3 separate regions of the Homo sapiens genome follow, and regions 1 and 3 are each linked to region 2. The links come from fine-mapping of genetic effects on plasma protein levels. A gene starts in region 2. Each other region holds a variant in brackets. All regions are shown on one strand. Distances are from middle to middle. Region 1 overlaps DRAXIN (dorsal inhibitory axon guidance protein). Region 2 holds the start of DRAXIN (dorsal inhibitory axon guidance protein). Region 3 overlaps AGTRAP (angiotensin II receptor associated protein).

The links. A credible set is the group of variants that fine-mapping cannot tell apart. PIP is the chance, under the fine-mapping model, that this variant and not a neighbour inherited with it causes the effect. Protein levels are from antibody-based Olink assays in UK Biobank. Linkage for the fine-mapping came from a reference panel and not from the study's own genotypes, which makes the PIPs less certain.
Region 1: its variant is the best candidate, but not a certain one, in a credible set for the plasma level of the DRAXIN protein (UK Biobank, PIP 0.76).
Region 3: its variant is the best candidate, but not a certain one, in a credible set for the plasma level of the DRAXIN protein (UK Biobank, PIP 0.73).

Annotation. Positions count from the first base shown.
Region 1 is chr1:11,701,879-11,711,983 of GRCh38, reverse strand. It overlaps DRAXIN (dorsal inhibitory axon guidance protein), which reads right to left. Exons shown (of 7, transcript NM_198545.4): 2 at 5,275-5,735; 3 at 2,519-2,709; 4 at 19-133. The coding sequence starts at 5,725. Among named protein-coding and RNA genes, the nearest start is that of DRAXIN, 15 kb to the right of the region's middle. RefSeq lists an enhancer at 7,077-7,704. The variant G/A (reference allele first, on the strand shown) is at 5,005.
Region 2 is chr1:11,686,167-11,696,271 of GRCh38, reverse strand. It overlaps DRAXIN (dorsal inhibitory axon guidance protein), which reads right to left and starts at 4,562. Exons shown (of 7, transcript NM_198545.4): 1 at 4,419-4,562. It also overlaps a transcript of MAD2L2 not described here. RefSeq lists enhancers at 5,247-5,754, 5,755-6,264.
Region 3 is chr1:11,744,738-11,752,737 of GRCh38, reverse strand. It overlaps AGTRAP (angiotensin II receptor associated protein), which reads right to left. Exons shown (of 5, transcript NM_020350.5): 2 at 6,901-6,935; 3 at 5,193-5,298; 4 at 4,128-4,323; 5 at 1,969-2,661. The coding sequence ends at 2,546. Among named protein-coding and RNA genes, the nearest start is that of AGTRAP, 13 kb to the right of the region's middle. RefSeq lists enhancers at 3,200-3,876, 3,877-4,553. The variant G/C (reference allele first, on the strand shown) is at 7,412.

The sequences.
Region 1 (10,105 bases), 16 kb before region 2:
TGGGGTAGGTGGGCATACCTTTCTTCTTTGCAGAGGGCCAACCATCAGGTTTTAAGTCTTCATAATCGGTCCAGTCGAACAAGGCCATGTCCAGCGTGGGCATCACCTCCCCGTCAGACCTGGGCTGTGCCTGCTGGAGACCGTGGAGAAGGGGGATGTTGGAACCTTCAAATCCATGGAAGCAGGAGTGTGGAGTCCCAAGGTCAGAGGACAAAAAAGAGGCTTCTCAGAGGCCACCTTATCCTCTGCTGGGCAGCCTGGAGTCTCAGCCCAAGGACATAAAGATGGCTGCCGGAGGCTCCTGTTCCAGTGGCCACTAGGTAATTTCCTTCCTGTGCAGCCATTACTCAAGAAGGACCATGCACACACACACAGGTGAGTTACCTACCAGGCCCTCTGAGGAGGGGCAGAGACCACCTGCAGGCTGGGAAGGCAACCTTGCTTGCCCAGGGTCTTTAAGCCCACGAGGAGGGTGTTGGAAGTAGCCCAGCCACTCACTGGACTTTCCCATCCCTTCCTCTCTCTGCAGAGGTTACCAGCAATCCGTGGCACCATTGAGGCCACAACCAGGGCTCAGTCCCACTCACAGCCTGGGCCAGTGGCCCCAGGAATGCAGAGGGCTAGAGGTCCTCAGCAATAGCTGGATCTACACACGGGCATGTGCGAGCACTAGGGCATGGGCAGGAACCGCACCTTCTAGGCTGGCCTGCAGGGGGCCTTGGATGATAAGACGGATAACCATGTATTCCTGGGAAATGGTCTGCAGCTTTTATCACAATCTCAAGGGGGTGCAAGACCCCAAAAAAGGATAAGAAAGATCTGCTGCTAAAAAAGCTTTATTTCTTTTGTATTTTTGTAGAGACGGGGTTTCACCATGTTGGCCAGGCTGGTCTCGAACTCCTGACCTCAGGTGATCTATTCGCATCGGTCTCCCAAAGTGCTGGGATTACAGGCGTGAGCCACCCACTGCACCTGGCCTATTTCTTTTTTATGTATTTTTTATACATATATATTATTGATCCTTTTAAATAATTTTAGTTTGAAAACCTTTTTTTTTTTTTTGAGATGGAGTCTCACTCTGTCGCCCAGGCTGGAGTGCAGTGGCGTGATCTTGGCTCACTGCAAGCTCTGCCTCCCGGGTTCAAGCAATTCTCTGCTTCAGCCGCCCAAGTAGCTGGAACTACATGTGCCTGCCACTATGCCCGGCTATTTTTTTTTTTTTTTTGTATTTTTAGTAGAGATGGGGTTTCACCATGTTAGCCAGGATGGTCTCGATTTCCTGACCTTGTGATCTGCCCGCCTTGGCCTCCCAAAGTGCTGGGATTACAGGCATGAGCCACCGCGCCCGGCCTGAAAACCTTTAAAAGCCACAGAAGAGGTGCAAGAACGATGCGGTCAGCTCCTATATACCCCTCTTCCAGAATCACCAGTGGGTAGTGTTTTTGCCACATTTGCCGCTTACTTTCTCTCCACATTTTTTTTTTCCCTTGAGACAGGGTCTCACTCTGTCGCCCAGGCTGGAGTGCAGTGGTGCAATCATGGCTCACTGCAGCCCTGACCTCCTGGGTTCAAGCGATCCTCCTGCCTCAGCCTCCCAAGTAGCTGGTACTACAGGCACATGCCCTCATGCCTGTCTAATTTTTTAAAAAAGTTTTGTAGACACAGGGTCTCACTATGTTGCCCAGGATAATCTCAAACTCCTGGGCTCAAGTGACCCTCGTGCCTTGGCCTTCTAAGGTGTTAGAATTACAGGCTTGAGCCAACGTGCCCGCCCCACATTTCTTTTTTTTTTTTTTTTTGAGACAAAGTCTCACACTGTCACCCGGGCTGGTGTGCAGTGGGGCGATCTTGACACGCTACAGCCTCCGCCTCCCAAGTTCAAGCGATTCTCCTGCCTCAGCCTCCCGAGTAGCTGGGACTACAGGCGTGCGCCACCACACTCAGCTAATTTTTGTATTTTTAGTAGAGATGGGGTTTCACTATGTTGGCCAGGCTGGTCTCGAACTCCTGACCTCGTGATCTGCCCACCTTGGCCTCCCTAAGTGCTGGGATTACAGGCATGAGCCACCGCGCCCAGCCCACATATCTTTTTTAAAGATCTGATGCAGATGGGTCCAAGTGTTAGCTAATGCTTATTAATTCTGGGTCTTGACGACACAGTTTTAAAAATCACCATTATTATGCTTCATGCTCCTCTGTACACAGAAAGCTCCTCCCCAGGCCTTGCTGCTCTCCATGCAGACACCAGCATGCTGAGCTACCGCTTGCCTCCTTGGCTGTCCCCAGAGTGGGCCCCCAGGAGCACTTTGCCCTGGACAGTGGCAGACCCTTGTCAGGATGGGGCACCCACCAGGGCTGGAGCTAGACTGGATGGGCAGCAGGAGATCTGGTTTCAATCTAAGTAAGCTCTGTGGCCTCCTGCCCCCGTGCCTCAGTCTCCCTACATGTATTAAGAGGGCTTTCCATGACATGGGCTCAAGGACCCTTCCAGATCCGAGGCTGTTTGGGGACCCCTTACCTGGGGCCGCAGGGAGGTGACGGGCAGGATCAGGGACTCTTCTGTGGCAGGTGCTGCCTCAAAGGTGGTGAGAAAGAACATGGTGGGCGCCAGGCTGGTGGAGGATTCCTCCATGGCTGCATCCAGCACCTGGGCTTCGGAGAGCTCTGCCTTCTTCATCAGGGAGCTGGGACCTCGGACCAAGGCTCGGCCTGAGACACAGGGTGGGGAGCACGGGGGCTATATCTGCTTGCCACCTCGTGGCAGTCTACAGTAGAACCCACGTTTTATGCTGCAAACTAGGAGGCAGCAGGCACTGTGTGACAAGCCCTTGGTTCAGCCCCCATTCCTGCTTCCTACCCTTCTTGGGAGGTTGGGGGATGGGAACTCGGAGGAAAATGTCTTGGAAGAACTTGCAGTGTCGCTGGGGAGACAGTCCAAGGATTCTCCCTGTAAAGCAACATTCCAGCAAGTCCAAGTCCAGATTGGCTGGGCGCAGCCAGATATGTAAGTATAACAAATAGGAACTAGTAGGATTAACCATGGAAGGCTTCCTGGAGGAGGTGAAGTTTGAGTAGGGAGAAATGTCATGAGGCTGAGAATCATTGCAGTGGCCTTTGAGGAAGCTGGGAGGTGGGAATCACTGCTTATCACACACAAGTGAGTGCATCCTGTGTGGTGACAATTAGTCATCACCCCATTAATGGAGCACCTGCTGTGTGCTGGGTCCCAGAGGAGCTGTGTCACAAGTGTTATTTCGTCTAACTACTGCAAGAGCTCTGGGAAGTGGGTGCTCCTTCAGTCTCATCTACAGGGAAGGAAACTGAAGCACAGAGAGGTTAGGTGACTCACGCAAGGATGCACAGCTCATGAGTAGCAGGGTCTGGATTCAGCTCCAGCAGGGCTGGAGTGCAGGGGCTCAATCTTGGCTCACTGCAACCTCTGCCTCCAGGGTTCAAGTGATTCTCCCACCTCAGCCTCCTGAGTAACTGGGATTACAGGCATGCGCCACCACACCTGGCTAATTTTTGTATTTTTGATAGAGATGGGGTTTCTCCATATTGCCCAGGTTGGTCTCCAACTCCTGATCTCAAGTGATCTGCCTGCCCAGCCTCCCAAAGTGCTGGGATTACAGGTGTGAGCCACCACGCCCAGCCTGGCCTGAGGTTTCACAGCCAGTCATTAGCAGAGCAGGGCCTAGCCCGCAAACCTTCTCCGTTCCCCACCTCCTCCTCACCATATCAACTCTCCCAGGAGGCCTGGCTGCAGCCCTGGAGCTGGCGGAGCCGGAGCCCAGCAGGACGGGTCCACACCCCACGCGTGCCCTCTAGCTGTCCTCAAAGGTCCCAGCATCCTCCCCTGAAAGCTGACACAGGTAACTCCAGGAGTGGGAGGCTGAAAGTCGAAGCCGGGGGACCCTGACTGACCTCTGCCCTCTTGGGGGGTTCTCAGGCCTCACAGGGAAGCCAGCCTCAGCTGTTTGCACGAGAAGGGGTGTTGAAGCTCCATTGCCTTCCTGCCAAAGAACCCTGCTGTCACCACTGCATTTGTGGCACTCGGCATGTCCCTAGAGGCAGTCGGGTCACATGGAGAGCTTAGAAGCCAAGTTCCCTGGCTTAGGGCCAGGCAAGGCTGGGAGGAGCCACCTGACTGGAGCTGAGGGGACATGTCTACTCCGAGACTGAATGGGCACGGGGAGGGGGAAGCCTGGGCCAGCAGGGGGCTAGCTAGCTCCCAGCGGATGTGGGGGAAACGTTAAGGAAGGTGGGAAGGGCTAGGGGAGCACTGAGACAAACAGGGCAGAGGCAGGAGCGGTAGGCAAGCGATGCCTCTCCTGGAGTCACCTGTGTCCAGGCTGGAGGACACTGAGTTGGCCTCAGCAGGTGGCTGAGATTAACCAGAACAATGACTGCTCATGGCCCTGCCAGCTGAGCTCCAAGCGCCCCACTAACCAAGTCTCTGCAACGACACTGAGGGTAGATGGGATGGGACCAGTCTCCTTGCTTTACAGAGGGGAAAACCGAGGCACAGAAAGAGAACTTGCCCAGGGCCACACCCTAGTGGTGGAGGCAGGACCTGATCTCAGGCAGACCTGGCTTCAGAGTCTAGGCTCTTAGCTCCTACCGGATGCGTCAGAGTCGAGTAAGAAATGTGCTTGGAGGGCGCTGAACTGTTCCATTTCTACTCAGAACTTAAAGTAGGAGAAATTTAGGTCAGATACAAGGTAGAACTTCCTGATTCAGGAGGATGATCTGTTGATAAGACAGATTATTATTATTATTTTTTGAGACGGAGTCTCGCTCTGTCACCCAGGCTGGAGTGCAGTGGCGCCATCTCAGCTCACTGCAAGCTCCGCCTCCTGGGTTCACACCATTCTCCTGCCTCAGCCTTCCAAGTAGCTGGGACTACAGGCGCCCACCATCGCGCCCGGCTAATTTTTTGTATTTTTAGTAGAGACGGGGTTTCACCGTGGTCTCGATCTCCTGATCTCATGATCCGCCCGCCTC[G/A]GCCTCCCAAAGTGCTGGGATTACAAGCGTGAGCCACGGCACCGGGCCGCGATAAGACAGATTGTATTGCAACACATCCCTCTCCTCTTCCCATGCCCCAACCCCAGGCCTCTCCCAGCCTCCTCCCCTTACCAGGTCCCTCTGGCTTCAGTGAGACCCCTCCTCTCCTCTGGACCTCATGCCCCTGACCCTTGCCTGCATCCTCTCCTGCTCCCCTCAGTCCATGGCAGGAATCACCCCCATCCCCACCCCTCGCAGCCCTCCAGCTACCTTGGTGCAGCCTCAACCTGTCCCTGCGTCTCTTGTGCTCCCTGCTGCGTTTCCTGGTCCTCTCCCAACCTGGAGGTCGGTTCTCCTTCTCGGGGTAGGGCAATGCCAGTCCCAGGAGCAGGTCCTTGTCCTGCAGCAGGCCTGCAGGACTCTGCTCAGGCAGCAGCCCCTCAGCCTCTGGCAGCCTGGAGGCCTGCCTGGTGGCGGTGACCACAGCCCCATCCTGGGCCTGGCTGGGCAGGCCTGGGCCCCACTCCTTCTTGCCCGGGCCCCGCCGGCGGTGGTGGCTGGCCTGAGGCGTCCACAGCGCTGGGCCTGGGAGGTCAATGTGATTCTCAGGGAGGTTCCGGGCAGGGGTCCCAGGTGCAAGGGCGCCTGCCAGGCTCAGCTCCAGGGGCAGCAGGAGGACGAGGAACAGCATGGGAGCGGTGTGGATGGCAGGCCCAGCCATTGGCTCCTCCCTGCAAGAAGAGCAACACCATGAATGCGCAGCCCCAGGCCTCTCTCTGCTGCCCCTCACTCAAATGATTAAAGCCCAGTTTTTCTCAACAGCCATAGAGGGACATTTTGCTCCCAGTGACATTTGGCAATGCCCGAAGACATATTTTAGTTGTCAAAACTGGGGAGTGCTACTGGCAGGTAGAGGTTGGAGCCCGTGGATGCTGCTAAACGCCCGACAATGCACAGGACAGCCCCCGAAACCAAGAATCATCCGGCCCAGAAAAACAACAGTACCGAGGCTGAGAACCCCCGGCTTAAATCATTTCAGCAGCATTCAAGTTCCAGATTAGTCCAGAATTCCTTTCTCTGCACAAACCTCTGCCCCTTACCAAGTCCCCTAGAGGGAACCGAGTCCCTCAGAGCTCAGAAATATGCCTCTGGCCCCTGAGACTTGACTCGGAGCCTAATTCCATACAAATGGAATAATAGCGTTTGAGCGCACGCTGTAGGCAGGACCCACGTTAAGTGCTTTGTGTGAATTCATGTCACTTCGCCCTTTCAAGAGCTCTCTGAAATGGCTCCTGTTATTTTCCCCATTTTTCTGAAGTGGCAATGAAGGCTCAGAGAGGTTAAGTCACACCTAGTAAGTGGCACTGTGTCATTCCTGTCCCTGAGCCCTGAACCCCGTGTGGCTGTCCCAGGATGGCCCAGCTCTGCCTTTCTCTTCTCCTCTCATGATGAGCTCTGAGGCCCCAGAATGTTCTGACACTGTCCCTTCCCCTGGGGGAGGGGCTTTGGGAACAGCTTTGCAGACTTGGCTCTGACCCCTGCAGGGTAGACTGAGCCAACCCGACCTAGCCTCAGGATATCCCCCTCAGGGGACCCAGTGCCCTCCCTCCACACTGGAGGGAGAAGCTGCAGCTCAGGGGATGGTGGGGGCGTCTGTCAGACTCTGGAGACCTCCTGCCCCCGTGCACCACCCGCAGCTGCTCCCCCACGCACCCCTCTCCATTGCACCAACCTCACTGTATCCTGGAGCTAGGCACTAGGTTAGCCAGGCTAATTGAATTTTTATGGCCTCCCGAGTATTCCACTAGGCTGGCAAGGGTGCTTACGCCACCGTTTCTTTGTGATTTGTGGCCATATAATTGTCCCGGGCTGAGAAAAGGTTGGTGGGCCTGTGATGTTTCCCTGCTTCCCGGCGCCTCTCCCTGCGGCCCCCATGCTGGCTGGCCCACCCCAGTGTCACCTTAGCCCCGACCCCGAGGGAGGGTGGTAGGGCAGGGAAACTGCTGTGCCCTCGAAGCTCTGACCACGCACTCGTGGAGGGGAGGGGGGAAACACCTTCTCCAGCCTCGCAGGGTCTGTGGTGGCTTCACCCAGTTCTGCCTCCATCCCAGCCTGGCATGTCCTGGTCCCCTGGGATCCTGGGCCCTGGCCTCCACTGTCCACAGCTCAGCTCTTCCTAGAACTGTGGATGGAGACAAGGAGGTGGCCGTCACTTTCCATCTTGTCCCCTATCCCGGGGATCTGGCTGAAGATACTAGGTGAGCCTTGGTGACGTGCGTGGGACCCTGGGACAGGCTTGTTGTGACAACCCTGTCTCCCATCACACCTGCATCCATTCCTAAGGCCACAGACCCTGCACCACAGTCCCTGCTACTGTCCTGGTCACGTCACCAGCAACGGAAGGCTCTGTCCCACTGGCCTTGCCTCCAGCCCTTCCCTAACAAGTGCTCTTGAGGCCAGAGCTCAGCAAGCGGGACCTGTGTCCCTGGTTCCTGAGGCAGCCCAGGGGGAGGAGGGGCCCATTTTAAAGGCCTGTCACTCAAGCATTGTTCGGCGCAGAGGGAACCTCAATCCTGCTTCGGGGCCAGTGGAGCGGGGCTGCTCTCTGGGCTGGCATTTAGCCTGACCACTGCCAGACTTCACCCCCTGCTCTCCTTGTGACTGGAAAGGCCAAGCGCATATGGGATCCCGTCCATGTCCGAGACCCAGCCCTGCCTTTCTGTCCTGCAGGGACATGACAGCCTGGGAGAAGCCCGAAGAGCGTCCTAGGGACAGGGAAACCTCGGGACGTTGGCCAATGAAAGGAATCACCACCTCCTCCTTGTCCTGGGGGTTGAGGGGAATGAGGAAGAAAACCCAGACAGTGCGGGCAAGAGAGCAGAGGAGGCTCAGTAGAGAGGTGGGCAGCTTCTCAGCTAGTCTGCTGTCCCTGGGGACACACAAGGCTGTCAGTAAACCTCAGAGCCGCCTCTGAGCCTGGTGAGCAGCCTAGGTGCTGGTCTTGGAGGACAGCTCCTTCCCTGCAGAGCCAGGAGATGAACTCCCACTCCTGCCCCACTCCAACACCCCGAAGCAGCATGATCCCACCCAGACTGCCACCTTCCCAAGCTCCGTTGCCACGACCCTACTTGGCTGTGGGTCCATTCACAGTACCCATCCTGCTTCAGGGCCAGTGGAACCCCAGTCTGAATGCCATCTTTGTTCCCTCCCACCCTTCAAGAACCACATATCACCCACGCAGCCAGCCTGGGACAGAGGAAGTGGGATTTCAGTGCACAGTGCCAGAGCACCCATGGGGGTGCATCCAAGGGGGCTCCATCCTGTCCCCAGACCCAGCATATACTGGTGGTATGGCTACTCGGGTTGTGACCCTTATCTGCTCAAAACTGTCTATGGCTCCCTATTGCCTTCCCATGCAACCACAGACTCCTTACTTTGGCACTGAAGACCTTGTGTAATGTGGCCCCAACCAAGCTTTGCAGCTCCAACTTCTACTTTCTCCCCTTCACAGGCAACAGAGACTGCTCCCTGGGCCCCAAACACACCCCTGCTTTCTGGCTCTCTGTTCTCACTTTGCCTGTCCCCTCTGCATGGAACCTCTCCCCCTCTCCCTCATCTCTCTCCGTCCACGTCCTGCCCATCCTTTGGGACTCAACCCAAATGTCCCTTCCTCCAGGAAGCCTTGTTCAGTCCCCTGACTCCATGTGCTCTCCGCTTGGTGCTCCCACATGCCTTTGTCCTGCTCTTGAAGACCTCGTGTGTCATTTTGTGCTGGGACCGTCAGGTTTTTTAGAGCCCCTGGCTAGACTGGAAGCTCATAAAGGACTCTGCACATTCCCTTCTGCTCTGCGGCCCCTCCAGGGCCCTGCACATAATAGGCGCTGGTAGCCATGGATCAGAACAGAAGTGGATTGAGCACAATCCAATTTATGTATCAGGCCGGGCACAGTTGCTCATGCCTGTAATCCCAGCACTTTGGGAGGCCAAGGTGGGAGGATCACCTGAGGTCAGGAGTTCGAGGCCAGCCTGGCCAGCATGGTGAAGCCCCGCCTCTACTAAAAATACAAAAATTAGACGTGCATGATGGCATGCGCCTGTAATCCCAACTACTCAGGAGGCTGAGGCAGGAGAATTGCTTGAAACTTGGAGGCGGAAGTTGCAGTGAGCCAAGATTGTGCCTCTGCACTCCAACCTGGGCGACAGAGAGAGACTCAAAAGAAAAAAAAAAAAAAGAATTCATACCTCGGCAGAAGATCATAAATAAATCCCCAGGATGTGTGAGTGTGTGTGTGTGAGCATCTGGCATGTATGTGTGAGCATGACGTGTGTGTGGAGCATGTGTGAGCATGTGTGTGTGTGTACTATGATCATGTGTAAGCGTGAATATGTATGGGTGTGTAGGTGTGTAGTGAGTGTGTGGGAGTGTTAGCATGTGTGTGTGTGGAGCATGTGTGAGTGCATGTGTGTGTATACTATGATCATGTGAGAGCATGAATATGTGTGGGTGTGTAGGTATGTATGTGTGTTGTGAGTGTGTAGGAGTGTTAGCATGTGTGTGTGAACATGTGTGAGCGTGTGTGTGATGATGTGTAAGCGTGAATGTGTGGGTGTGTAGGTGTGTGTGTTGTCAGTGTATGTGTGGGAGTGTTAGCATGTGCGTGAGCGTGTGTGTGTGCTGTGAGCATGTGAGTGTGAATATGTATGGGTATGGGTGTGTATGTGCATGTGTGTGTGAGAGCGTGTATGTGTTGTGAGCATATGTATGGGTGTGTGTGAGCATGTGTGTATGTGTGAGCATGTGTGTTGTCAGCATGTGTGAGCGTGAATGTGTGTGGGCGTGTACGTATGAGTGTGAGCATGTGTGTGTGAACTCGCGTGTGTGAGAGCATGTGTGTTGTGAGCATGTGTGAGCGTATGTGTGTGCACAAGCATGTTTGTGAGCATGGGTGTGGACTGTGTGCAACAGTGTGTGTCAGCTGGAGGAGGGGCTGGGGGAAGACTACACGGGCCCCTCTCTCCAAGCCCAAGGATTTGTACACAGCTCTTGGCACAGCCCAGCAACTGAGATGCCAGCCTGGCAGGGAGCCCCCGAGGAAACGTG
Region 2 (10,105 bases):
GAAGGGTGAAATAAACAGTAGTTGTTACTATGGGAAGGGGAGACAGAGGGAGTAAGGTGGCAGGCATGGGTGTGGTGGGGGCCAGGGAGTTTCCTGGAAGCATTTGTGCATCTGTGCCTGGGTGTGCAAAGGGGCAGGCGCAGGTGGCTGCGTCCTCTGTCCTCAGTGGGGTGATCGATGGCAGGGCAGGACTGTCCTAGGCCAGCCTGGAGGGGACCATTGTCCTGGCAAATGAGGTTTGGCTTCCCTGCAGGGGCAGCTCCATCTGCTTTTATTGTTTCCGACAGCAGCCTTGGGATTTTCAACCCACCCCAGACCTCACACCTTAAAAACCTGTACAGGGGCTTTGCGGGAGTTCATCAGAGGCCCCACCCATTCAAAGGCCTCCAGCTTCCAGCATTCCCCGCTCACCTGCTGAACTCGAGTCCTACCTCCTGCTAGATTATAGGTACTTGTGGCCCCTCTTCCTCCTCTCCTAGGCAATTTGTGGGTGGGGGAAGCAACCCTCAGCCTCCATATTCCTCAAACTTCATTATCTTGGTACCTAGACCATTTAGCTCTGTGTTTGTTTGGGTATCATCTACTGTTCTAGGTTCTAGGCCCAGAGCTTTATAGGCATTATTTAACTTGACCCTTTGAAGTATATATATATATATATATTTTTTTTTTTGAGACAGAATCTCACTCTGTTGCCCAGGCTGGAGTGCAGTGGTGCAATCTCAGCTCACTGCAGCCTCTGCTCCCTGCAACCTGTGCCTCCTGGGTTCAAGTGATTCTACTACCTCAGCCTCCCAAGTAGCTGGGATTATAGGCGTGCACCACACTTCCCAGCTAATTTTTGTATCTTTTTTTTTTAGTAGAGATAGGGTTGCACCATGTTGGCCAGGCTGGTCTCGAACCCCTGGCCTCAAGTGAGCTAGCTGCCTCGGCCTCCCAAAGTGCTGGGATTATAGGCATAAGCCACTGCACCTGGCCTGAAGTGGATAATATTTTTCAGATGGTAATAGCAACAATGGCTGTGTAGGAACATTAAGACAATGACCAAGGGACTTGCCTAAGATAGCCTAGTAGAGCAAGTGATAGAGCTGGGATTCGAACCCACAGCCATCTGACTCCTCAGACTCATCATCCCTGCTCCATCACATTCCTGGCCGAGACTGCTCCTCATGCTGCCATCCAGTAACCAACACCAGTGCAGCTGCTGTGAGTCCCAGGGAAGGTGGCATGAGCTGGGGCCTGACCCAGAGCCTGGTACACCTGAAAACCATTAAGTCCTGCAATGAGCTCCTTCCAGTTGCTCTGGGTTCTAGCAGGAGCCTCATCCCTCATAACCACCCCTTCAACCCCATCCCATCAAGAGAAGTCTTGGTGTTGGGGCATGGGTGGGTCATGGTGTTGGGGCATGGGGCGTTGTCAAGCTGGAACCTGGGGTGGCAGAGCCTCTACTGGCAAGGATTCAGCCATCCTCCCACAACCTTCTTCTTCTTGGGGACCACTGGCCACAGCGACTCACCCCTGAGAAGGAAGGCTGGAGTAGGGCATGCAGAGAGGGCCAGCGGAGCAAGAGGGAGGCAGCTCCAACCCACTGGGCCAGAACAGGGGTGCTCCTATGACCTGCCCCCCAGGAACATGCTCATGCCTCTGAGGGAAGTTCGGGGAGGCTGGGATGCAAGTCCCTGCTCCATCACATTCCTGGCCGACACACGTGAAGGAACTCCCTCTGGGTCCCACAGCTGCTAAGTGATCAGCTGGGCTTCAAACCCAATCTGCACGGCTGGGGTGAGCCACTTCGTTCTCTGGTCTCAGTTTCTACCCCTATAACAGGCACAGAGACCACCCTCATTTTCCAGAGTGATACAGGGCCTCAGTATCACAGGGGTTTCCGGGCAGCTTGCTCCCCCTCCAACCTCCCCAGCCAGAGGGCCAGCTCCGCCCTGGCCCCACCAGCAGGACCCAGCAGAACTCAGCAAGACACTGGGGCTTGCAGTTTTCAGTTCATTCCTGTGCCTTTGACCAGGAATCACATTCAATATAACAGGTGTGCACAGAGCCCCTACTGCGTGCCAGGCACTGGGACCACAAGCAGAAGGAGACCCAGCCCCCACCCAGGGAGGAGCAGACCCCTCCCAGATAGGGATTATGCCGTGCAGTTCACAAGAGCTAGGGAGGCAAGGGAGTGCCGGGGTGCTTCCCACAGGAGAGGACATCAGACCTCCTTGGTCAGCAAAGACAGAGGGCTGAGATCAAACACAGGGCAGGGCAGAAAGAGCCCTAGCAAAAGCTCAGAGGAGGGCAGACTGTGGAGATGGTCAGTTCTCCATCGTGGCTGCAACCTGGGACGCAGAGGGGACAATGCTGGGAGGCAGGCAGGACAGGGCTAGGCTGGGCTGAGGTCTCTGTAGTTAACTGAGTGGCCACAGTGAGCCACTGAGGACTATGGACTGGGAGGGCGATGAATTGAATAGTGGGGAGGAAGGCAGCGGAGAGAGCAGAGAGGACCTGAGCAAGGTTCCCAAGCCTCTGAGCTGGCTTTGCTGCAGAAGGCAGGGGGTAGAGATGGTATGAAGGGCCGGGTTCACCAAAGTAGGGCCTGTCTGCCAGGTCGGATTTCGAGCAGGAGCCTGGATGGGGGATGTCGTGGGGATATCCAGCCGTTCTTGCCTCTAAAGAGAAAGGTTCCAGTTGCCAGCCCTGGCTGTGGCTGAAATAAGAACTCAGCCAGGGGAGCCTGGAACCTGCCAGCTGGGAGGTTTCCCTCTTCTGAAGTTGCCCTCATTAAGACACTCAGGCCACGTCACTGCCAGACTCCTGGAGTGGTGTGTCACATGTTATGACCACCTAGACAGTGGTCAGGGGGCTTGGGCAAGCACACAGCAGGTCCAGGAGCCAGCAAGACAATCCCCTCAGAGGAAAGGAAGTGGCCTGTGAGCTGGTGCCGCTATTAAAGGCATCAAGCCAAGACTGAGGTTCAGAATTGGGGGTGAGTCACCGGACGCCTTCTGATGGGTGATCAGTTGTTGGCAACACCAGCTCAGCCACACTGATCTCATTTTGAAAAAAAGTGACCCATTGGCCCTGATTGTTTTAGCTGATTTTAGGACAAGCAAAGAGGAGGAGAGAGAGAAAGAGAAGAGTGCTTGCAAGGGTGTGGACGCCTGTATGGGCACGAGGAGGTGAAGGTGACAGGAAGTGTGATGGGGGAAGAGGCTGTGGTGGTGGGGTTACTCTGAAGTGTCTCTAAGCCTTGACTTTGAGATCCATTTCTGTGGAGCCCCCTGTCCCCACCCCATCCCAGGTCTGTAGACTCCCCTCCCCTCCCCTCCCTTCCTCCACAGGGTGTGTGAACCAGCACCAAGCGGCACCCCACAATTTCCACACACATCCCTATAGGTAGGGACTAGCACCATCCCTGTTTTGTGACAGGAACACTGAGGCTCAGAGAGGTGCATTCCTTTGTCCGAGATCACTCCCAGAGCCCCAGTGTACCCGACTCCAGATGCATAGTACTGAACCGGTTCCAGACACCAGTGTGTCACTGGGCTGGGAGGTGGGCAGCGTGGAGGGAGCATATAGGGCAGGGGAGACCACCGGGCGGAGAGGATGGCCCAGGGAGCACCCAGCTGAGGAAAGCAAGAAAGACTTGGCGGGAAACCCCAGCCCTCTCTCATCTCATACCCCGGCCCCGAAGGCGGCTGAGACCCTTGACGAGCGGACGGAGAAAAGCCAAAAGCCGGCGGTGGGGAGCAGGAGGGACAGAGCGGGAGACCACAGGCGAAAGACCAGCGCCGTCGGGGGAGCCAGGCTGAGTACCTTCCTGGGCACAGATGGGACGGCGCGGGGCCACCGGCGGTGCTGGTTCCGGGCGCACTCAGCGACCCCGGCCACACACCCCAGCCTCCTGGGCGGCCTCGAAAGGGGCTGGAGGGCACGCCCGCCAGCTCTGCCCGGGGCTCAGGGAGTCTTCGAAGACTTCTTCCAACGGTGGCGGACTGGGGCCCCCTGCCTGAGAGACCACCCGGAGACTCAGAGACAGAGAGACAAAGGGAGACTGGGTCAGGGAGAGAGAAGGCTAGTGCCGAGGAGAGTAGGTGCGAGCCGGGACCCCAGAGGGCGGCGAGGGCGCGCGCGAGGCCGAGTGTCAGAGCGTGGAAAAGTGGGCGTCCAGCGGTAGGTGGACGGATGGGGAGCCCGGGAGCAGAGCCAGGGTCCGTGGGCAGACGCGGCGAGGAGAGGAGGCGGCGGAAGGACTGGCGGATAGACGGGTCCGAGGGCTGGGAAGGAGGCAGCATCCTCACTTCCAGCCTCGGGACCCCGCGCACCCCGCCCCTGGGCGCGCCAGGTAGCCCACCTTTGTCCGGGCTCGCAGCCAGGTGGGGCGGGAGGGGCGGAGCCAGGGGCGGGCCGAGGCCGTGCCTTACCTGTCCGGCCGGCGGGTAGGGGGAGGAGGGGCTCGGGGCCGAGCGCCCGCGGGAGCCGAGCGCAGCCGAGGGCGAGCCGCGGAACGGGGCCGGCGTGGAGAGGTGCGCGGGCAGCCGGAGGATGTGCCCGGGCTGAGCGGGACTGGAAGGAAGGGGGAGTGGGCGGGCAGGAGGGAAGGGGGCGGGAGCGCGGGGAGGGGACAGAGGAGGGGCGGCGGGTGGCGGGCTCGACTGCCCCCAGCCGAGGGGCAGCCCCGGGGCCGGGCCCGGCGCGCACCCGGCCAGCGCGCCCTCGCCAGCTGCGCTCTGAGTTCTGGGCCAGCTCCCCAGAGGCCTAGGCGCCGCCGCCGCGAGGGCGCGGGGCAGACAAAGGAGGCAGACAAAGGCGGGCGCAGCCCAGCAGCCGTGCGGGCACCGGGCGAGGCAGGCCCACTCCTCCCGGTGCGTAAGAGCCGCCTCGGCGCGGCCCAGGGCGCGTGGGACGGGAGGGGCTCCGGCAGTTGTGGCGCCTCTGGAGCGGCCCCGCGCAGGGCGGGCGACAAAGGGCCGCGGCGGGCGGTCCTCGGTGGACCCCAACAATGGAGCGAGGCTGCGCGCTCAGCTGCGGCCGCGTCTGTCAGGGCAGGGGCCCGGGGCCACAAAAGGATTATTCCGCCTAGACTGTCAAAAGGGACGGAAGAAATGCCCAGGGCGGGGGAGGCGGGACGGGGAACGGCGGGGCCTTTGTAGCCGCAGAAAGTGCGCAGAGTGGGCAGGCGGGGTTCTCCGAGAGGTCGCTCCTGGATGTAGGGGTACAAAGGGTCTTCAAAGTGCTACCAGCTCACCTGGGGCGCTGACGGCGCACCTGTGCCCTCTTTCCCGGTAGGGAAGGGAGAAAGACAACCGCCCCAATACACACACACACAAACACACACACACACACACTCACACGCGGCGCGGCTCTCGCCACGCCCCGTCCAAAGCCGGCCTGAAGCTTCTCAGACCGGCCCAACCCGGACAAAGCCAGCGCTGGGGCCGGCTCATCCATCACCGCGCGGGGCGCCGTGTCCTGACGACCCTGGGAGTCTGAGAATGCTGGGTTATGGGTCCCGTGCCTCCCATAACTCACGACGGGGTCGGTGGGGCCACGGACGCTGCAAAGATCAAAGAGCGATGGGGCCGGACTCCCATATGTGGGAAGCAGCGCTCCCACCTGGCGCCCTGAGCTCGCCAGGTGGCTTCCATTTCGACTGTTTTCTTTCTCCAGCGTGTGGCAAATTATGACTTTGAGGTTTTAGAACACAGTTCTGCCGTCAGGCTAAATGTCTGTGTTCCTCTTCTGATGCCGTCCCCTATGACCTCGAGCAAGTCGCCTGACCTCTGAGCTCATGATTATACCTAAATTTCAGTGTTCTAGGCGTGAATGCAGTGCCCTGTGTAAGGAGATAACGTTTCTAAGGTCTGGCCCATAGGAAATGCTCCTGTAAAATTAGCTGCCATTGTTACCGTGATATTATTAGCTTGGTGGGCACCAGGATGGATTGATGAGAACACTGAACTGTTTATTCACTGAAAGGTTTGAGTCATCCATCCCATAAATACCTATTGAACACCTACTATGTGCCGGCACCGGAGGTACAGTAGTAAACAACATGGACAAGAATCCCTGCCCCCATGGAGCTCAGATTCTAGTGAAGGAGACAGAAGATAAGTGAACAAATAAATATAAATGATGTCAGGTGGTGATTAGTGCTATGAAGAAAAGTAAAGCACATTACAGACAAAGCATGAAGGGACGAGGTGTTGTTTTACATAAAGTTATTAGGAAAGGCCTCTTTGCTGGGGCAGTTCTTTTGGCAAAGAAAAGGAGGTAATGAGCCACGTGGTTGTGGGGAGAAGACTTGCAAGCAGAAGAGCCACTGCAAAGGTCCTGGAGCGGGAGTGTGCTTGGTGTGTTTGGTGGAGAAGAGTCAGTCTGGAACAGAGTGAGGTGACATCAGACAGGGAGCTGGGATAGGACCATGTTGTTACAGGAAAGGGGTCCTGACCCAGACCTCAGGAGAGGGTTCTTGGATCTCGCACAAGAAATAATTCAGGGCGAGTCCATAGAGTAAAAAGTTTATTAAGACAGTAGAGGAATAAAAAGAATGACTACTCCATAGACAGCACAGCACCAAGGGTTGCTGGTTGCCCATTTTTATGGTTATTTCCTGATGATGTGCTAAACAAAGGGTGGATTATTCATGCTTCTCCCCTCCCCCCGCCTTTTGTTTTTCTTTTTGAGAGGGAGTCTTGCTCTCACCCAGGCTGGAGTGCAGTGGCACAATCTCAGCTCACTGCAACCTCCACCTCCCGGGTTCAAGCAATTCTCCTGCCTCAGCCTCCCGAGTAGCTGGGATTACAGGTGCACACCACCATGCCCGCTAACTTTGTGTTTTCAGTAGAGATGGGGTTTCACCATGTTGGCCAGGCCGGTCTTGAACTCCTGACCTCAGGTGATCCACCTGTCTCAGCCTCCCAAAGTGCTGGGATTACAGGCTCGAGCTACAGCACCCAGCCTTTTTTTTTTTTTTTTTTTTTTTGAGACAGAGTCTCACTTTGTTGCCCAGGCTTGTATAGTGGCACAGTCTCGGCTCACTGCAACTTCTGCCTCCCAGGTTCAAGCGATTCATGCCTCAGCCTCCCAGTTAGCTGGGGTTACAGGCACACACCGCCATGCTCAGCTAATTTTTTGTATTTTTAGTAGAGACAGGGTTTCGCCATGTTGCCCAGGCGGGTCTCGAACTCCTGACCCCAGGCAATCTGCCTGCCTTGGCCTCCCAAAGTGCTAGGGTTACAGGGGTAAGCCAGTGTGCCTGGCCTTTGCTTCCCCTTTTTAGACCATATAGGGTAACGTCCTGATGTTGCCATGGCATTTGTAAACTGCCATGGCACTGGTGGGAGTGGAGCAGTGAGGATGACCAGAGGTTGGTCTCGTGGCCATCTTGCTTTTGGTGGGTTTTGACAGGCTTCCTTACTGCAAACTGTTTTATCAGCAAGGTCTTTATGACCTGTATCTTGTGCTGATCTCCTGTCTCATACTGTGACTTAGAATGCCTTAGCCATCTGGGAATATGGCCCAGCAAGTCCCAACCCCATTTGACCCAGCCCCTACTCAAGATGGGGTTGCTCTGGTTCAGACACCTCTAACAATGTGAGCCTGCAAAGGCCACAGGGAGGACTTGAGCTTTTTAGAGGGACCATGAGCAGAGCAGAGACATGATCCGACTTAGGTTTTTAGCAGGTTTGCTGATTGCTTTTTCTTTTTTTTTTTTGAGATGCAGTCTTGCTCTGTTGTCCAGGCTGGAGTGCAGTGGCGCGATCTTGGCTCACTGCAACCTCTGCCTCCCAAGTTCAAGCGATTCGCCTGCCTCAGCTTCCTGAGTAGCTGTGACTACAGGCACCTGCCACCATGCCTGGCTAATTTTTTGTATTTTTAGTAGAGACAGAGTTTCCCCATGTTAGCCAGGATGGTCTCGATATCCTGACCTCAGGTGATTCGCCAGCCTCGGCCTCCCAAAGTTCTGGGATTACAGGCATGAGCCACCGTGCCCGGCCACGTGTGCTGATTCCTAAGGTTGGGAGTAGTCTGCAGTGGGACAAGGGTGAAAGCAAGAGACCAGCTAAGTACTGTGGCAGAGAAGAGATGATGGTCACCTGGGCCTGGGAGAGGGGGCAGTGTGCAGCCAGCATGATTTGCGTCGCCAAGGATAGAGCTGTGGGCCAGTATTCATGAGCCAGGAGAAAAACCTTGGAGTCTCTGGTTCAAATGCTGCTACTGTGGCTGTCCCCTGGCTGGGTGATCTTCCGATGTGCTTGGAGCTGGGGTGACACAATATGAAAAGGTGGATGTTAGGAGAGGCCTGGACTCCTATCCCATCCAGTTTATGATGACTTTAGGGCCTCAGTTTCCTTGTCTGTAAAATGAGGTACTTGAGGGGCCAAAGCAGGCTCCAATATTCATCAACTGATGACTGGATAAGCAGATGTGGTCTATCCATACACGGGAGTATTTTGGTTCTACGAAGGAATGAAGTATCAATATGTGATTCGACCTGGATGAATCTTGAAAACATTATGCTAAGTGGAACAAGCCAGACATAAAAGACCATATTTTGTACAATTACTTTTATATGGAATGTTCCGTATTGGCAAGTCCAGGTCAGGCGCAGTGGCTCATGCCTGTAATCCTAGCACTTTGAGAGGGTGAGGCAGGAGGACCTCTTGAAGCCAGGAGTTGGAGACCAGCCTGGCAACATAGTGAGACCCCTTCTCTACAGAAAATTTTAAAAATTAGTCTGGGCGTGGTGGCTCATGCCTGTCATCCCAACACTTTGGGAGGCCAAGGTAGGTGGGTCACCTGAGGTCAGGAGTTCGAGACCAGCCTGGCCAATATGGCAAAACCTCATGTCTACTAAAAATTTAAAAATTAGCCAAGCGTGATGGAGGTCGCCTGTAGTCCCAGCTACTCGGGAGGCTGAGGCAGGAGAATCGCTTGAATCGGGGAGGCAGAGATTTCATTGAGCCGAGATTGCACCACCGCCCTCCAGCCTGGGTGGCAGAGAGAGACTCCGTCTCAAAAAAGAAATAAATGAAATAAAAATTAGCTGGGTGTGATGGTGCACACCTGTAGCCCCAGCTATTGGGGAGGCTGAGGTGGGAGGATCGCTTGAGCCCAGGAGGTTGAGGCTTCAGTGAGCTGTGATTGCGTCACTGCACTCCAGCCTAGATGACAGAGTGAGACCCTGTCTCCAAAAAATAAAATAAAAAAATAAAAAAATTGGACAATCCATAGAACAGAAAGTAGATTAGTAGTTTTGGAACTGATGTACCTGGCAACACACTTTGGGCATGAACAACCCTTCTCAAGACATCAGGAGTGATGAAAATGTTCCGAATTAGAGAGTAGCGATGTACAACATTGTAACTATACTAAAAATCACTGAATTGTACCCAGGGAAAATGTGAACTTTATGGTTTGTGAATTATATCTCCACAGAGAAGTTTTTTTTTTTTTTTTTTTTTTTTAAAGTGGCAGTTGAGCTGGATCAAAAGTTCTTACCTTGTGGCCCAGGATGGCTTCTGAATATATCTGGACACTCCTGATGTTGTGTAAGGCATTTAGTGTCTCTGGGCCGGGCGCAGTGGCTCAAGCCTGTAATCCCAACACTTTGGCAGGTGGAGGCGGGCACATCACTTGGGGTCAGGAGTTCGAGGCCAGCCTGGCCAACATGGCGAAACCCCGTCTGTACTAAAAGTACAAAAAAATTAGCTAGGCGCGGTGGCTTATGCCAGTAATCCCAGAGCTTTGGGAGGCTGAAGCAGGAACTCTGGAGGCCAAATGTTCAAGACCAGCCTGGGTAACACAGCGAGACCCTGTCTCTATGAAAAAAGAGCAGATGATCAGTAAGGTCCCCCTGACCACTGAGGGGTCAGCAACACTGGGAATCAGTAGAACCCCACGGAGGGAATGGCAGGTGAGGGCTTTGCTCTGGCTGAAGTGTCGGAAGCCATCTCAGGTCAGCAGTGAACCCTGGGATCTGGGACAGCTGTCCAGGTCAGGCCTCACACCAGAAGGCAGATGAGAGCGGAGAGGAGCTGTCAGCAGGAAGTCCTTGTCTTTAGGCATCTTGTTCCGTGATGATGCGTGTCCTCCCTAGGGCACCTTG
Region 3 (8,000 bases), 58 kb before region 2:
TTTTCCCGCACCCTGGCATCCCCTGCCTCTGGAACACGGCCTCACTCACAGTGGGCTCTGGGGCGCTTGTTGTATGTTAGAAGCTCTCCCTGTTAAGGCCGCTGTGTGGAAGGGGCAGCCACATGGTTGCCTCCTCCACCGTTTCTGTCTGCCTCTGATGGCCCTCCGGCTCCCGACTGCCTGCACAGTCGGGGGGTGGCACAGTGCCTGCAAATCTAAGCCACCCTCTCCCACTCCCTGAGCAGCTCCTAGCCAATGACTGGAAAGCCTGGCACCCTTGCTTTCATCGCAGGCTCTGCTTCTGGGGTACACTCTGAGACAGGAGCTTTCCTCTGTCCTCTCCCGCAAAGAGCCGGTTCAACCTGGGGGTCTGGGACGATGAGGGACTGAGGTGTCTAGATACACTCCCCTGTGCGTGGCCCAGGCTGCATCATCTGCCCCCACTGCCTGGGCCAAGCCCCTGCCCTGGCTTTTCATTCCCTTTGGGAATCTGACACGTTCACGACGCAGGTACACAAGCCTTCCCGGGGCCAGGATGCTGTATACACAAGATAAACGGACTTGGGTCTTAGTCCCATTCCCCTCGGGTCACGCTCCTCCTCCACCCAGGGTGGCTACAGTCATGAACCTGACAGGTGTCCTTCTAGTCCATGCTTTTCTATTTTACCGCACATACACCCAGGAACAACATATGGCATTGCTGTGAGGTCTGAAAATTCATCCCAATGCCATTCTGCAATCTGCTTTGTTCACATTTGCGGGGGGCCAACGTTGGTGGAAATAGGTCTGGTTTAACAGCTGTAACTGCTGCACTGTGCTCCATACGATGAATGGACCGTGGCTTACTGGTCCGTACTCCCTATAATGAATGGACCGTGGCTTACTGGTCCATACTCCCTACAATGAATGGACTGTGGCTTCCTGGTCCATACTCCCTACAATGAATAGACTGTGGCTTCCTGGTCCATACTCCCTACAATGAATAGACTGTGGCTTCCTGGTCCATACTCCCTGTAATGAATGGACCGTGGCTTACTGGTCCGTCTCCCGACAGTGAGGCTGTTTCCAGTTTCTCACAACTGCAGCTGCTCAGCAGCCCTCTGCCCGGAGCACAGCCCCTTCCCCACAGCAGCCTTCCTCCCTGACCCAGAGGCCCATGTCCTCTTCTTTCGGGGCTCTTGCCTCTGTCTGTAATCCTCCAGGTGGGAAGACTCCTAGGTTGAGAGCAGGCTCCCAAGGTCACCACTGCAGCCCCAAGCCCGCTCGGCACCAGGCAGGTACTGAGCCTCTTTTGATTGACAGATGGACGCAAGAGAATAATGGGAGTTGTGCACTAGGCCTTGACCCTGTGCCAGGGACAAGCCAGGATGGCCTGGGAAAGCCCTGGCACTTGGTGCCCAGGGGGCAGAAGAGCAAGCTGTGAATAGCTAGACCTGTCCGTGGGGTGGGCCGAGGCCCTGGGGAACTTCTGGACGTGTCAGCCCAAGTCAGCTGTGACCAGACACAGGGGCTACCAGGAAGAGGTCGCCCCTGCCTCCTAACCTAGCATCGTCACTGGCCTGAGGAGCAGGTCCACTGCTAACAAGTTCACCATCACTTAGGGAGCCCTCCTCACGCCAGGCACTTCACACCTGGAGCAGGCACCAACCCTTTCTAGAAGACACTGAAGGCATGCAGCTAGTAAGTGGCAGAGCAGGATTCCAAAGAGTGCCTGGGTCATCTGGTTCAGAGAAACGGATGCCCACGCACCACACCCACCAGTGTCTCTCTCTCCTGTGGCCTCTGCTAGGCCAGAGCCAGGCTCAAGCCCAGCTCAGCCAACGCACATGCCTGTTTCCTCCTGCCATGACAGAATGGGGCAGCACAGCACAGGCTCCACCTGGGAACTGGCAGGAGACATCTTCCCAGGAACAAGGCCAGGCCCCAGCCCAGCCAGGAGATTGAAGGTGGTTCAAAACACAGCCCATCTACAGAATTCCCCAAACTTTAATGCTGTGCTCTGAAAAGGGAGGCTGGAGGTTGTGGTGGGACACAGTGTTGCTGACACCTCTGGCCTCCAGCCCTGCATCCCTAGGCACCATGTGACCAGGCAGTGAGAAGGACGGGGCCTCACTCCCATGCCAGACTGCTCCTCGGGCTGAGCAGGACCTGAAGCTCTCAGGGCTTCCACCAAAGCCCAGCAAACTTGGGGGAGGCCTGAGGGGGCATCAGCAGTCCTTAAAGGCCTGAGCTTGCAACACTCAGGCAGGACTCGGCTGAGGGCCTCTGTGGTGCCACCATGGGGTAGGAGGTAAAGAGAGACCCTGGTTCCAGCCTGGGAACCAGTGGGTGCCCTGAAGGGAGGGGAGGCCTCAGGGAGTTCGGGACAGGAGTGTGCATGGTACTGGGCGGCCCATGGGGGCTCCTGGCCTCTTGGTTCAGGCAATCCCTGAGCTGGGGACACATTCCATCTTAGGTCCAAGAGACGGAGGTCAGGAGCATCCCTAGAACGACCTCCCAGGCACGAGGAAGGCCCGGGGCAGGGCCGGGCGCAGCGTGGCTGGCTTCAGTACCCTCGGGCATCTTGACTCCTGCCCTCTGGGACTGCAAAGGGATCTGCGGGCGCCTCTGCTGAGTCAATCGTCTGGTAGGCACTACGGTCCTGAGAAGACCCAAGGAAACCTAGGTGACAGGGGACATGGTGGGAAAGAAAAATGAAGGGTGAGAACTCGGGATGTTCAGCTGAGTCCAACCCAAGATCCACCCCCGCCACCCTCGGGCTGGGCATCCTGACACCATGCACAGAGACAGAGGCAGCAGCCCCAGGCCCTAAACCTTTAGCGTGTATTATTCATTCAATCCTGCCGTATCCCTGTGCGACGGGTATTTTTATTGTCCCCACTTTACAGATGAGGAGACTGTGGGTCAAAGGGATGAAGTGACTTGCCCGAGATCACACAGCTCAAAGCTGATGATGCTGGGACCCACGCCTAGGCAGCCGAGTCCAAAGCCAGGCTCCTGGCCCCTGTGCCATGGGCTTCCCCAGGCAGCACGTGCTTAGGAACCTGGGCAGAGGGACATCAGCCCCGGGCCCACGCACTCCTCTCCAGCTCCCCTCCCAGGTACAAGGACACCACATTACCATATCCAGATGGCCTCGGAGGCTGGGGCTGGGTCCAAGGCAGGGCCGTAGGGCTCCGAGTACGCCACATGCCTCACTCCCATCCCCTACTCTGTACATTCATCCCGGGACCCTGAACAAGTCCCAAAGGATGTGGGCCTCAGTTTCCTCATCTGTCCAATGGGAGAAACATTCTGGCACCCCTCACCTGGGGGCAGGCCCAGGCAGTGCTGAGGTCAGCCACTGTGGGCAGCCCCAGGCCATTCCCACCCTCAACCAGCTGGTGGCAGTCACAGGCCACGTGGGGCATCTCATCTCAGGAGTGAAAGGCAGAAGGCCACACCCTACCACCTCCCTCCACTCCTCTCAAAGAGAGAGAGAAAGGAAGAGAGAGAGAGGTGTCAGAGAGCAGGCAAATGGCTCGGCCACCAGGAGAAGGAGTACAGGAGTTCAGAGAGGGCGTGGGAGAGGGCAGGTGTAAGGCTGGGTGAGTGGGGAGGGGCCGGTGGGCAGGGAAAGTGCCCCCTGTTCAGGGCTGTCTTCACTGAGGCTCCCACAGCCTACACTGGCACGGGCTCTGCCCTGGCCACCTAGCAGTCTCTGCAGCAGGAGAGGGAAGACCCCATGTGGCAGGAAATGGGGTTCCAGTGATGGGCCCCGGTGAGAACAGAGAGGAGACCTGTAGGTGCCCGTGGCCCTCAGGATGGAGACAGCCCAGGGCTGCCCCTGGGAACTAAATGGTACCCCCAGCTGTGCCTGTGTTCTGGGCTGAGAGAAGGGCCCAGCCTCAGCTTCACAGCAGAAGAAGGTCACGGCAGACCAGGACAACCAGGGGACCCCTGGGCTCCTGCAGCAGAGACTAGGAGCTTGGACCTGTCCAGCCTAGTACAGAGCGCCCATGCCACGCTCTCCCTGCACCTTGAGCCCTGGCCCCATGGGGCAAGGCTGGCTCACTGAGGGAGAGGCTGGAGGCCAGGCAAGGGAGAGAAGGGAGCGGTGAGGAGCTGGCTGGAGGTGGTGGCCTCACCAGTGTGGACCAGGAGCTCACCCCCGCGCTCCCGGTACATGTGGTAGACGAAGCAGCAGGAGAGCGGCTTGAGCAGCAAGCTGAGGATGGCCATGCCCACGCCAAAGCGGCCCGTGTCCGTGAGGCTGACCCGCGGGTAGAAGATGCTGATGTGCACGATGTCCAGGAAGATGGTGGCCAGCAAGCCACCCAGAAACTGCAAGACACACCACACTGATGAGCACAACACCCCCACCACGCTCCGTGGCTCCCCCGCCACACACCGGATGGGAAGCCGTTTCATGCCCTGCTGTGTCCTTGGGGCTTGCGGGAAAATGGATCAAGCAAGCAGGCAGGGCCCCGCTGGGGAGCCGCTGGCTGAGACTGCAGTCTGGGGGCAGGGATGCCGGGGGCCCAGGTCTCGGTTCCACCAGAGCCTCCCTCCCCACCCATTTCCCGTCATCTCCAAGGCCATGATGGGCACAAGACTTGGCTCTAGAACCTCCATAGAGGAAGGTTCCTTGGAGTTCACCCAGTCCTTCTCCAACACAAAGAAAATCTCTTCTCAGTCATCCTGAGGCCCTGGCCTCGGCTTGAAGAGCCCGTGCGGGAGTGCTCACTGCCCCACGGGGCTCCGTGGGTGCTGAGAAGCTCCCCCTGTGGGAGGTTTCGGTGGGGCAGGGTCACCTCTACTTCCTAAAGTAGTGAAATGCCCTCTTGGCCGGGTCTCCCAGCCATATCCCCTCCCCTAAAAGAGAGCCGCAGAGGGAGGTTACAGGGGATGTTCCACTGCTCTTGCGAAGTGGCTAATCCGAGGCACTGGTGGGACCCACCCCATGGCTTTCCTCAGGGAGATAATGGCAGACTTGGGGTTCTCTAAGCCAGACAAGAAGAGCAGCAGGCTGGGCTCCTGAACACAGGCATGGGCCGGAGCCCAGGAGGCTGATGAACAGGCTTTAGACAATGGGAAGTGGTGGCCCAAGGAAGAGGGGGAAGATTGGGATGGGACGGGGTAGCAGAGCCAGGCTATGTCTTGCCCTGTGCTGCGGCTCCCCGCCTTGCCGCCTCTCCCCCACCCTGGCTCACCATGCTTATGGCGTCGATGGAGTCCCGCTGAGCCACAGCCCACACGCCCAAGGCCAGGATGGTGAAGTTGGCCCAGGCATAGGAGCCTGAGAATACAATGCAGCCCCTGTAGGAAGAGGTAGCTCAGTCCCGTCAGGAGGCCACCACCCCGCAGGTCACCTCCCTCCTGCTCCGGCGTCTCAGGGCCTCCTCCCAGAACATGCCATAGTCTTCGAGGCCACCCGGCTGTGTGCCAGCAAATCCCATGGGCTCCGCCTCCCACCCAGACCCTGGATCTGGCTGTGTCCCTGTAGATCCAAAGCACCTCCCTCTCCTGGCAGATGACAGCCGCAGCCACCCTGTGCCAGCGTCCTGACTGCCACTCTGTTCTCTAAACAGCAACCGGTAACGTAGTCAGATGCTGTCACTCCTCTGCTAAAAATCCTCCAACAGTTTTCTGTCCCATTTGGAATAAAATGCAGACTCTTCACCAGGGCCTAAGGGGCCTGTGGGATCCCGGACACAGCCTCGCCCTACTGACCTCCCAGCCACTGCCCTGTGCGGCGGGCGCCCTCTACCCTGACACCTGGCCCTCCTTTTGTCATTCACCCTGAGACTCGAATGTTCACCCTGAGACTCCTTCCCTTGCCCACCGGTGCTAAGTACAAGTTCGTCACTTTCCTAACACAAGGCCCGCCCTATTCTATTTTTAGGGTACTGATACTGACATTGTTGACTTACTTGTCAATCCAATCAAAATCATAGTGAACACCGATCACTTGCTAGTACCTAGCATGGTTCTGTTTTAAATTAACTCATTCATGTACATTTATGTTAATAACCATAGGAAGGAAGTATTATTGTTACCCTCACTTTAGAGATGAGGAAACTGAGACACAATGAGGTTAAGTAACTCGCCCAAGGTCACACAGTTGCTGAGCAGTGGGGCTGGGATTTGGAGTCTGGCTGGAGAGGCCATGCTCTTGCTCACCCTGCTGTGCTGCAAGGAAGACTCAGGGGGACAGGGACTGAGTCTACCTCATTTATTACCAAACCCACTGGGCCTTGCCTTCCCCTGCATGCAGCGGGCGCTTCCTAGATTTATAGGACATTCACTAAAGTGTAACATGCAGAAGACATGTGCAAGGCAGGTGTGGAGTGCCATTCGGTTCAATAGGTCTTTGAATAAACCATCTTATCTTTTGCTTTTAAGAAAGCAGGTGCCTGGGTCCCAGCCCAGAATCACCAACTCAGAATCTTGGGGAAGTGTGACTAAGAAATCTGTATTTTGGCCCTGCTTCTCAAGGTCGTGAATCATGATGGTTACAGTTCACATTACTCACAGCTGTTGCCCTGTGCGCTGCACTTCGAAGTTTGCAAAGTGCACAGGTGAGCTCAATGGTTTCCAGTCTTGGTTTGGCAGAGAAATGTCTCCAGAAGCTCAACAGATTAAAAGAGATGGTAAAGGTGAAAATCAAGCTGCAGTGCTGAGGCCTCACTGTGGGGCAGGCCCTGGGGAGCTCTGATGAGCACTTCCACGTCTCCCTCCCAGCTCCTGCAGGGTGTGCAATCCTTATGCCTATTGTACAGACGGAAATCAAGACCCGGAGAGGCAGAGCTGTCTGGCCCAAAGTGACCTGGTTAAAACACGGCAGAACCAGGACCTGACCCGGCTGACACAGACCCTGAGACCGCAGGAGACACACAAGATACCCACAGAGTCACTTACCAGGTTGTCAGCAGCCAGTGACCTAGGAGAATCACCTGTGGCACAACAAGGGGGAGAGAAGAGGTCTGTGAACATGACCACCACAGGGGCAGGAAAGCGTCGGGTGCAGAAAACACAGGACGCCCCTGCGCCTGGCACCTCTGAGGGCCTCAGTAATGTCTGTTGAAAAGGCACACCAGCAACTGCAGGTGGCCCAGGAGTGAAGGAGGAGGAAGAAAGCAGGCCAGGCCAGGGAGGGGCCGCTTCATGCCTTCACCCCTCCCATGGGGCAGCTGACACCCACACCCCTTCCAAGCGTCAGAGGCGTATGAACCAGAGCAATTCCATCTTGAATAGGAGCTGGGTAAAATAAGGCTGAAACCTAGTGGGCTGCATTCCCAGATGGTTAAGGCATTCTAAGTCACAGGATGAGACAGGAGGTCAGCACAAGGTACAGGTCATAAAGACCTTGCTGACAAAACGGGTTACAGTAAAGAAGCCGGCTAAAACCCACCCAAATCAAGATGGCCAC[G/C]AGAGTAACCTCTGGTTGTCCTCACTGCTACACTCCCACCAGCACTATGACAGTTTACAAATGCCATGGCAACGTCAGAAAGTTACCCTATATTGTCTAAAAAGGGGAGGCATGAATAATCCACCCCTTGGTTAGCATACTATCAAGAAATAACTATAAAAATGGGCAACCAGCCTGGGCGCGGTGGATCACACCTGTAATCCCAGCATTTTGGGAGGCCGAGGTGGGTGGATCACCTGAGGTCAGGAGTTCAGGACCAGCCTGGCCAACATGGTGAAACCCTGTCTCTACTAAAAATACAAAAATTAGCCGGGCATGGTGGTGTGTGCCTGTAATCCCAGCTACTCAGGAGGCTGAGACAGGAGAATTGCTTGAACCTGGGAGGTGGAGGTTGCAGGGAGCCGAGATTGTGCCATTGCACTCCAGCCTGGGCGACGAGAGAAACTCCATCTCAAAAATAAGTAAATTAATTAATTAATTAATTTTTTTAAAAAGGGCAACCAGCAGCCCTCAGGGATGCTCTGCCTATGGAGTAGCCATTCTTTTATTCCTTTACTTTCTTAATAAACTTGCTTTCACTTTACTCTAT